Linked DNA regions of Homo sapiens: region 2 is linked to region 1. The links come from fine-mapping of genetic effects on plasma protein levels. A gene starts in region 1. The other region holds a variant in brackets. All regions are shown on one strand. Distances are between the middles of the regions. Region 1 holds the start of GPD1 (glycerol-3-phosphate dehydrogenase 1). Region 2 overlaps DIP2B (disco interacting protein 2 homolog B).

Evidence for each region. A credible set is the group of variants that fine-mapping cannot tell apart. PIP is the chance, under the fine-mapping model, that this variant and not a neighbour inherited with it causes the effect. Protein levels are from antibody-based Olink assays in UK Biobank. Linkage for the fine-mapping came from a reference panel and not from the study's own genotypes, which makes the PIPs less certain.
Region 2: its variant is the best candidate, but not a certain one, in a credible set for the plasma level of the GPD1 protein (UK Biobank, PIP 0.84).

The regions. Positions count from the first base shown.
Region 1 is chr12:50,101,101-50,106,474 of GRCh38, forward strand. It overlaps GPD1 (glycerol-3-phosphate dehydrogenase 1), which reads left to right and starts at 2,908. Exons shown (of 8, transcript NM_005276.4): 1 at 2,908-2,991; 2 at 3,474-3,651; 3 at 4,448-4,588; 4 at 5,188-5,326. The coding sequence starts at 2,951. RefSeq lists an enhancer at 1,918-1,967.
Region 2 is chr12:50,643,880-50,649,253 of GRCh38, forward strand. All of the region lies in intron 3 of DIP2B (disco interacting protein 2 homolog B), which reads left to right. Among named protein-coding and RNA genes, the nearest start is that of ATF1, 120 kb to the right of the region's middle. The variant G/C (reference allele first, on the strand shown) is at 3,182.

The DNA.
Region 1 (5,374 bases):
TTCTGTTTAGATGTGGGCAGGATCTGGACGACCAAAGACATTTTTGCTTTTTGTGCCTGCTACTCTTTTTTTTTTTTTTTTTTTAGACGGAGTCTCACTGTTGCCCAGGCTGGAGTGCAGTAGCGCGATCTTGGCTCACTGCAAGCTCTGCCTCCTGGGTTCACGCCATTCTCCTGCCTCAGCCTCCCGAGTAGCTGGGACTACAGGCGCCTGCCACCATGCCCGGCTAATTTTTTGTATTTTTTAGTAGAGACAGGGTTTCACCGTGTTAGCCAGGATGGTCTCGATCTCCTGACCTCGTGATCCGCCCGCCTCGGTCTCCCAAAGTGCTGGGATTACAGGTGTGAACCACCGTGCCCAGCCTGTGCCTGCTACTCTAAGGTTCCGCTTTCATGGTTCAAATAAGAGTTCAGTTTTTGTTTGCCTGTTTTGAGATGGAGTTGTGTTCTTGTTCCCCAGGCTGGAGTGCAATGGCGCGTTCTCGGCTTACTGCAACCTCCGCCTCCCAGGTTCAAGTGATTTTCCTGCCTCAGCCTCCTGAGTAGCTGGTTCTTAAGAGCACCATGGAAGTTCTGTGTTGTCATCCTCATACTGTAGACAACTAGCCCCTCCTTGGCAGAGTTTGGAAGACAGCTCAGGAGGGATTCCCATTAGCAATCACTTGAAACTCGCCTGCAGTTCTGCCTGCTTCCCACTTGGAGGCTCATGACTTTTTTCCTTTGTCATTATGCAAGAATGGGGTTTGGAATATAGGATCAGAGTACAACCACTTTCCAAAGTTGTAGTTTAAAAATTATCCTTTGCCTGTTTGGATGGGAACATTCTAGTATTGCCTGTTCAATATATGTAATCAAACCCACCAAAAAATCCAACCACTGTTCCTACTCCGGAACTTGGGGTTTATCAGACTTGAGAAGGGAAAGCAGAGAGGAGTGGTTGGGCCGATAACTAGGAGTGGAGAAAATTGATGTCAAGGACATTGAAATGGCATCTGTTTTTACCCAGGCTAATTACATGTGTAATGAATGGCTGATGAACCATTATTAATTTCAAGCAAATCTACAGTTTGCTCTTGGGAAAAGAGCTCTAGTGATACAGATAACTTCCTGTGATGAGCCGATTCTGAATCTCTGCACCCTCTTTATTCCCATGTAAATGAGCACATTCTTAGTCTCCACACTATCTAAAATGATTGTAGGGGCAAAATGAGAGAGGGAAGCATTTAGGCAAAAACAAGGGGGTTATTTTATGCATAAACATCCATTCTTTGGGGCTCCCATCATTTGTGCCAGGGACAGAAGCATCCTTTCTCTTCCATCACCCGTAATCAGTGCTCCCAGCTGGCAGCCTGGCACTGGAGCCTTCATCTCAGTGCCAGTGCAATAAAGGAGTGGTCTGTGGGAGGCTGTTTCTGTATTAGGTATAACATTGTGCTAAGAAAAACAGCCAACTACTGATTTCATGTCCGTTTCCCTATGGGAAATTACTGGCCATGGAAGGAGAATATGGTTGGTTTTTCCTGGGCAGTCCCCGGAACTTAGAAAGCCATTTCTCCCCAGTCTTGACCTCCTGCCTGCTTACTCCTACCCATGGGTTGCACACAGACTCCCCTGTAGCCCAGTGCTTGTTACCAGTTGCTGGCCAGCAACAGCCCAGGGGGATGGCAACACCCACCTAGCCGTCTGCCAAGCCAGGAGGTCAGCACATGAGCACACAGTGGTGTCTGCCCTCTAGGCCAAGGTGCACAGTGTTAGGAGCCTCTTGCTCCACTCTCCAGATCAGCCTGGAAACCAGAGCTTCCCTCGTCTTAGACAAACAGATGGCCGTGGGCGATGCAGAGCCCTGAACTGCTGAGGGTGCTCCTTCCATTCTCGCCCTTCCCCAAAAAACATACACCAAACTTACCCCCAATCACAGCATCTGAGACCACAAAGCCCCACGGACACAGCTGCCCCGGGTACTGCCTGCCTTCCCCTTTTCTGGCCTCTGCAAACTAGCCATTCACCTGATGAAGCCCCTGGGGCAGTACCTTGGAAACCCCTGAGAGGAGGAGTTGAAGGAGGCTCAAAGCCTTTCAAGGACAGTGTGCACTCTGCCTGCCTCCTATTCTCTCCTGTCCTCTTAAGCCCAGAGTCTACAACAAAATTGTGTACCGCAATTCTCAGAGCTCTCTAACTTTAACCTTTCCCACCTTCCCTAGAACACATTTTTGGGTGGGGATCATCTGAGAGGCCCATGGATGAGTCCCCAAGATGACCTCTGTGGGTGACCAAGACAATCTTGTCTTTTGAGGCACCTGGAGTCTCTCATCCTTTTTTGAGCTGGGCTGTCCTCAAAGCAGGCCCTTACCTCTTATGTGGCCTCATCTTTAGAGGTGGGAAGTGGGCCCACATCCCCCACCCCAGCCCTGCAGTGGAGCTAGCGTGGGCCTGCTGGAGGACAGAACTGTGGAACAGGGTCCTGTGAGGATATGTGGCAGGGTTGGCGGGGGGATAGGGGGTCATGGAGGAGCCTACCTCTGAAAAGCATTCCCCTAGCTGCTACTGAAGCTAAATACAATTTATTTCATGCTGGGGGACAGAAAGGAGCAAGGGAGAGCAGTCACCTGCTCCTTATCTGGGCTATTTTCTTAGCAGACCTCAAAATGAGACCATGGTGGGAAGCTGGGCTGGGGCCAAGGGAAGAAGCTTGCCAGCACTGTCAGCCGATGAGCCCAGGAGAAAAAGCTGGGCCTAGTCTCTGCCCCATTCCTGTTCCACACCTGTCTGTACCCCTGTCTCTCCTTTCCCTGGCTCTGCCAGACTCTCTATCTCCCTGGGCGCCAGCCTCCCCACCCACCCCTGGAGGGCGGGGCTTGGCTGCACCCACGTGTGGTGGAGTTAAATGCTCCTAGCCGGCAGAGGAGCTAGGGAGTGTGGCACTGAGCCGGCTCAGGCAGAGACGCGGCACCATGGCTAGCAAGAAAGTCTGCATTGTAGGCTCCGGGAACTGGTAAGCAGCTCTGTCAAGTGATATGGGGGAAGGGTAGGCCCCCCAAGACAGAGGTGGGTAGGAGGCAGAATGGGTGGGAAAGGCCCTCAGGTTCCTGTTCAGCCCCTGCTGCTATCTTCTATCATAGCAGCACAGGACAGACGGTGCCCGGCCCTCTCCTGACCCCCGCCCTCCTGGGCAGCTGCACCTGTTCACCATGGGAAGGCGTCTCCAGAGCTCTCTATGTGAAGAGCCGCTTGAGTTTGGGGGTGGGAAGATGAGAAGTGGGGCTCCCTTCTCTAGTAGCAAAGGGTGAGGAGACTGAGTCTCCTTTCTACTGCCAGGTCACTGGGGACTATTTGTCATGGGAGTGGAGGTGATAAGGAAGGTAGGTAGGAGTGAACAGCCTGGGGGGCTGCTGTGAGATCCTGAGGTGGGGCGCTGCCCCAACTCCTGCCACTGTTCCCTCCTCCTGTACTTTCCTGTGCTCCCCCTCCCACCAGGGGCTCAGCCATCGCCAAGATCGTGGGTGGCAATGCAGCCCAGCTGGCACAGTTTGACCCACGGGTGACCATGTGGGTATTTGAGGAAGACATTGGAGGCAAAAAGCTGACTGAGATCATCAACACGCAGCATGAGAATGTCAAATACCTGCCAGGGCACAAGTTGCCCCCAAATGTGGTGAGCCCCAACACCCTGCGAAGAACAGGGAGAGGAAGGGAGGGCCAGGAGTTGGAGCCGACCTTACTCAACAGGTGCCTCCTGCTGAGAGGGCCGCTTCAGGTGCAGCAGGACTTGGGAAGGTCTCAGGAGGGCTGCTCTGGGCCCTTTCCTGAGGACTGAGGAGAACCTATGCTTTCCCCTCACAGGCTCCCAGGCGGGTGGGTGGGGAAGGGATGGGAGAACAAGTTGGTCTCCATGGCAGCCAAAGACTGGGCTCCCAGACTTGGGGTCCAGTAGTGCCTGCCTCCGGCACTAATCCTGTTACTCATTCACTGAGTGAGTAGCCGACTTGGAGGCTGCTCCTTGGACTTACGGTCTTTGGTCAAATCCACGTGGCTCTCCCCACCTGGAAAGGGGAAGCAGGGAAGAGAGCAGAAAGGCTGGGGCTCCCCCTTCCCAGCTGGGGTTCCTGAGGAGCTGGGTGATGAAATCTTATTTGAGCTCTTTCTTTTGCCAAGCCCAGGCTGCTTTTGGCCTCCCGCACTGTCCCACAGCCAAGGGATAGGAGAGTGCTGGGATGAGGTTTCCAGGAGTCCTCAAGAGCCCAGGACAGCTGGAGGGAGACAGAGTGGTAGCTGGGGGGAGGGAGTAGAGTGTCTTATTCCTCCAAGTTCAGTCCTTCTAGATTCAGTCCCAAACAAGCCTTCCTGCTCCCCTACCAGCCTCACTCTTTGGCTCCCAGATCTCCTGAATAGGGTTCCACAGGGGCTAGGGGAGGTCTGCCAGGCCCGCGAGCACTTGGTCACCCCCACAGGTGGCTGTCCCAGATGTGGTCCAGGCTGCAGAGGATGCTGACATCCTGATCTTTGTGGTGCCCCATCAGTTCATCGGCAAGATCTGTGACCAGCTCAAGGGCCATCTGAAGGCAAACGCCACTGGCATATCTCTTATTAAGGTGCCAGGGACACCTTCATGTGGATGGGGGAGGGTGCGGCTCACTGTTGTGGGGTTCAGGGTGGGTGAAGCAAGGAGAACAGAAAATGGCAGACGCAGGCCAAGAGTTTGCTGGAGAAAAGAGAGGCAGTTGGCTCTGGAGAGGCTTAGGAAAGCAGTGAGGTGCTGGGGGTCACTGGAAGGGAGGCTGAAGGGAGGAGACGAGATTGGTTTGGAGGTCCTCTCGGGGAGTTTCGGAGGTATAAAGGAATGCCTGGGAGATATGAGAAGCGGGCTGGTTTGAGAAGTGTGAAGAGTAGCTGGTTTGGAGCAGTGACTGGTCACTGAATGGCAGTTTGTTGGGGCAGTCAGGCGGGGTTGCCTAGGGATGTGGAGGGGACCCGTTGCCTTGGAGAAGTAGACTGGTTGAGGGTATGTGGCAGGACAGTTGGTCACATGCTGTCTGGCCTCCTCACAGCAAACTTGAGCTGGGTTGGAATGGGGCAGGACCTGTCGGGAGGGACACAGATGAGCAATGGATTTGGAAGGGACAGAATTTCTGGGCGGAAGCCCGCAGGTGGGCCCAAAGGGCACCTGGCCTGAGCTCCATCCTGTGCTCAGGGGGTAGACGAGGGCCCCAATGGGCTGAAGCTCATCTCGGAAGTGATTGGGGAGCGCCTCGGCATCCCCATGAGTGTGCTGATGGGGGCCAACATTGCCAGCGAGGTGGCTGATGAGAAGTTCTGTGAGACAACCATTGGTGAGAGCCCCCTGGCACCTGCATACACAGTGCATCTAGTTGCATCCC
Region 2 (5,374 bases), 540 kb after region 1:
GGGTTACATTTACATGTCATGTGCAAAAATAGCTGAAGAATTTAGGGTATATTTAATAAAAGTTGCTAGAATTCAGAATAAAGTGATGGCTATGTAAGAAGGATTTTATATTAATGCTGGTAAGTGTAATTATAAAACACTTTCTTATTTGATGGAGGCTTATTAACACCTATAACATTTCAACCAATCATAATCAAATCTAAATAGACTTAGTGTTCACATTTCAGACACAGTATAAAGAACTTACCTTTATTCAGAGTTTAGATTATCTGACCTGATTCCATTCTTTGTGCTTTAGCCAAGAGGGAGCTTAATTTCAAGTATACTACCTTATTAGTATATTTCTTTTTCCTGCACATCCAGGCATGATTCACCTCCCTGCACACACATAGTATGGTCTCAAATGTAGAAAACACAAATTAATGCCTGAGATGGAAAGTGATCTTATTGTAAGTCATTCTGACTCCCTTGATGTTAATCTCTTGAGAAGTTAGGTACCTCAAACAAAACAACAAAAATAAAACAGGACATTAAGGGAGTATTCGTATTACCTTATTCAGCTCAAACATGAATACTGGAAAATGATACCCAGCTTCCACATGCTTCTGGGAGAGATGTCCAAAGTCACTTGTGTCTGGGGACTGAACTCCAGAAGTGACTTCTTTATCAAAGATCAAGATGAATTGTGTGGTGTTCAGTGAGTCAAATTCAGTTAAGAGAGCTGCCTGTTCTTATCAATAAGAGTCTTTTCTAATAGATAACTGAACATCTCTTTTTGACACTGGTGTATGGGTCAAGGTTTATCATGTTAGAAAATAGTTGGGTGGCTTGATTCGTTTTGTAATCTGTTGCTGTGAATGCCTGTGACAGGGAAAAACATGCTCTGTAATTACTAATTATCCAAATGTTACAGGCCTTCTAAAGCTTTCTTAATGTGTGTAATTCCCTAGCTTTGTCCAGTTTGCCATTACATATTTCATATCATATATAAAAATGCTTTTGGAAATGTACTCTTTTTAATTAATAAATGTAAGAATTTGATTTGCTGTTGTCTGTTACTTTCTCAGTAGAAGTGATTAATCATTTTTTAAGACAGCTAGGAATCATTTTTCCTTCTAATATAAGGAGGACATTTTTCTCATTTTTAACATACCTAAAATCAGAATGTTTTATACAAGATGACACCATAGATTCAATTAAATATGCAATCGTGATTCAACTAAGTAAATTCCAAGGACACTACAATTGTATAATCAGTATAAATGCAGTATAAAATTATTTCATTTCAGAGCTAAAAATAAGTTGGTAATGTCTTAAAAGTAATAGCCCAACAGTTTGGCAATATCATTAAAATTTTAAATAGTCATGTTCTTTATCCAGAAATTCTACTTCTAGGAATTCATTTTATATAAACAGTCGTGTGCACAAAGATATATACATACATATACAAAGATGTTTGTTGTAGTATTGTGTATAATACAATGGTTAAATAAGTCATAGAATGTTCACACAGTAGAATTTTATGAACGTTAAAATGAGGTAGATGTATTTGTGCAAATATGGAAGGATGTACAAAATCCTTTTTTTTTTTTTTTTGAGACAGGGTCTCACTCTGTCACTCAGGCTGGAGTACAGTGGCACAATCATGGCTCAGTGCAGCTTCTAACTCCTGGGTTCAAGCAATCTTCCTGCCTCAGCCTCTTAAGTAGTTGGAAGTACAGGCACATGCTACTGTGCCAGGTTAACTTATTTTATTTTTTGTAGAGATGGGATCTCACTTTGTTGCCCACGCTGGTGTCGAACTCCTGGTTTTAAGCAATCCTCCCGCCTTGGCCTCCCCCAAGTGCTGGGATTACAGTGGTGAACCATTGTGTCCAGCCCAAAATATACTTTTTAAATAATAAAGGCAAGACAGTATGTAGCATATAATCTGATTTTTATAAATAATATGTTTATAATTGTAATATTTATAGCATTATTATGTTATAGTAATATAAACATATGCTACTATGTTTATAGACATGGAGACCTGGAAAAATATATACCAAACTATTGAGGCAGGAGTATTTTTGGGAAATGGTGGGTCTAGGGAAAGTTTTCACTTTAGCTTTATATATGTTTAGATCTTTTTGCAATGTGTATTTTTTCAATCTTTCATTATAGTAAAATAAAATTTATGTGTATTGTAAATTTTAAAGATAGGTTTTAAGATTTTAAGGTCTTAATTATTGTTTATTTATTTTATTTTATTTTATTTTTTTTGAGACGGAGTCTCACTCTGTTGCCCAGGCTGGAGTGCAGTGATGTGATCTCAGCTCACTGCAACCTCCGCCTCCTGGGTTCAAGTGATTCTTCTGCCTCAGCCTCCCAAGTAGCTGGGATTACAGGCACGTGCCACCACACCCAACTAATTTTTGTATTTTAATAGAGACGGGGTTTCACCATATTGGCCAGGCTGGTCTGGAGCTCCTGACCTCGTGATCCGCCTGCCTTGACCTACCAAAGTGCTGGGATTACAGGCGTGAGCCACTGCGCTTTGTCTATTATTATTATTATTTTTGAGACAGAGTCTCACTCTGTTGCCCAGGCTGGAATGCAGTGGTGCTATCTTGGCTCATTGCAACCTCCGCCTCCTGGGTTAAAGTAATTCTCGTGCCTCAGTCTCCCGAGTAGCTAGGATTACAGGCACATACCACCGTGCCCAGCTAATTTTTGTATTTTTAATAAAGATGAGGTTTCCCTGTGTTGGCCAGGCTGGCCTCAAACTCCTGGCCTCAAGTGATCCACCCACCCTGGCCTCTCAATGTGCTGGGATTACAGGTGTGAGCCACCATGCCCGGCCCAGTTATTGTTCTTAATGACTTTTACTCTAAGTATGGATTCTTCTGATTTAATGCTGGGAGCTAAATGCAGTACTAACTCGCTTTGCCACCCTAATTGTGAACTTTTCTGTCTGTCCAAATCTAATCTCTGATCTGGTGATGGCTGGCACTGGCACACCAAGATCATTTTATTTCTGATATATTCCTCATGCTGTAGAAGGTAAGTTGAATTCAGTTCAGCAAGCATTTATTGTAGACTTCCTATATTTTGAGAAAAATGTTAGATTGATAGAGAAGCATAGATGAAAACACAGGAGTTTTTCTTCTGTTTTTCTTGTTTGTCTTTTTTTGGGGGGAGG[G/C]GGGTGGGGGACGCTGTGGTCCCGCTCTGTTGTCTAGGATGAAATGGAGTGACACAATCTCGTCTCACTCCAACCTCCGCCTCCTGGGCTCAAACGATCCTCCCTCCTTAGCTCGAGTAGCTGGGACTACAGACAAACCCTGTCATGCCTGGATGATTTTTGTATTTTTTGTGGAGACAGGGTTTCACCATGTTGCCTAAGCTGGAGTTTTTCTCCCCCCCGCCCAAAACAAGGTTCAGAGGTGACACAGAAGAGGGAGACGGGAAGGCATACAGTGTCAAGAATGGGCTTCAGAATGGAGGTGGTGATGTCTGAGCCATTTTGAAGGATGGATAATTATTTGGATATTCCAGGCAGAAGAAACATAATTTATCAAGGCAAGGGAATGTGAAATGGAAAATTAAAATATCCCCTCCTTTTCCTCTCCACCCTGCACAGAGTAGTGCCCTAATTAGTGTTGTGATATCCTATTTCAGAAGTTAGTCGTTGCTGCCTCTGCAAGAGGTCAGTACCTTAGAAATTAAGGAAAAATGGCATGACTGCTTGTTGGCTTGCAAGGAATTCCTTGAACAATACCTCTCTGCTTTATGACTCAACCCACCTACACATTTGCTTTTCAGTCACTCTGTCCCTATCTGTCTGTCTATGGAAAAATCCTAACAAGTAAGGTCACTTGGTCTGAGTTCTGGCCCTGGTCCTTAAAGCCCAGGTGTGCCACTCATGGATCATATGCTAACCACTTTGTAAAAATAAGCCAAGAATAGGAGCAGCTGGCCGGGCACAGTGGCTCACACCTGTAATCCTAGCATTTTGGGAGGCCGAGGCAGGTGGATTGCTTGAGGTCAGGAGTTTGAGACCAGCCTGACCAAACCCCGTCTCTACTAAAAATACAAAAATTAGCCAGGCGTGGTGGCGTGCGCCTGTAGTACCAGCTATGCGAGAGACTGAGGCAGGAGAATTGCTTGAACCCAGGAGGCGGAGGTTGCAGTGAGCCAACATCGCGCCACTGCACTCCAGCCTAGGCGACAGATCGATGCTCCAACACTCCGTCTCAAAAAAACAAACAAACAAACAAAAACCAAAAGAATAGGAGCAGCTACTTTGAAACTAAAAATAACATATTCCACTTAGTCTTTTTGGGAAAGATGAGAAAACAAATGTTTCAGTGTTATCCTTATCTTGGTGGTAAAAGTATTATTTCTTTTGTTACTAATGAGGTTGGACATTTGGAGATATGTTTACTGGCCATTTGTGCTTCTGTAAACTACCTGTCCATTGCCTAAGCCTATTTTTTTTATTATTTTATTTATTTATTTTTTTTGAGACGGAGTCTCGCTCTGTTGCCCAGGCTGGAGTCCAGTGGCCCGATCTCGGCTCACTGCAGGCTCCGCCTCCTGGGTTCACGCCATTCTCCTGCCTCAGCCTCCCGAGTAGCTGGGACTACAGGCACCTGCCACCACGCCCGGCTAATTTTTTGTATTTTTAGTAGAGACGGGTTTTCACTGTGTTAGCCAGGATGGTCTCGATCTCCTGGCCTCGTGATCCGCCCGTCTCGGCCTCCCAAAGTGCTGGGATTACAGGCGTGAGCCACCACGCCCAGCCCCCTTTTTTTTTTTTTTTTGAGTTGGGTTGTTCTTCCCCCCCCCCTCCTTACTTGCAAGGGCTTTTTTTTAATCCTAAAGATACTAACATTTAAATTGTACCATAGGTATTTGCCAGTGCAGATGGACAAGAAAAATCAGTAAGAAGTGTAAGAATTAGAAAAGAAGTAAAACTGTATTTACAGTTTATGTGATAATTTATCTAGAAAACTCGAGAGAATCAATGACAGAATTAACTTAAAACAATTTAGTCAGCAAGATATAAAGCGAGTACAGAAATCAACAACCTTAACATATGCAAATAATAAGCAGTTAAAAGATACAATAGTAGAGCAAACTTCATTTACAAAAGCAATAAAGGTAAAATATATTTAGGAATAAACTTAAGAAATGTCTAAAACCTTTATGAAAAAAACTTTAAAACCCTGAAAGACAAAAAAGTAGACCTAATAAGTGGAAAGAGATCCCTTGTTCTTAGGGCAGTTTAACACCATGAAGACGCCAGGTCTGTCTAAATTACTTTACAAATCTAATCTAATGCCGATAAAAGCTATCAAATTTATTTATAGAGTTAGAAAACTCATTTTTGAAG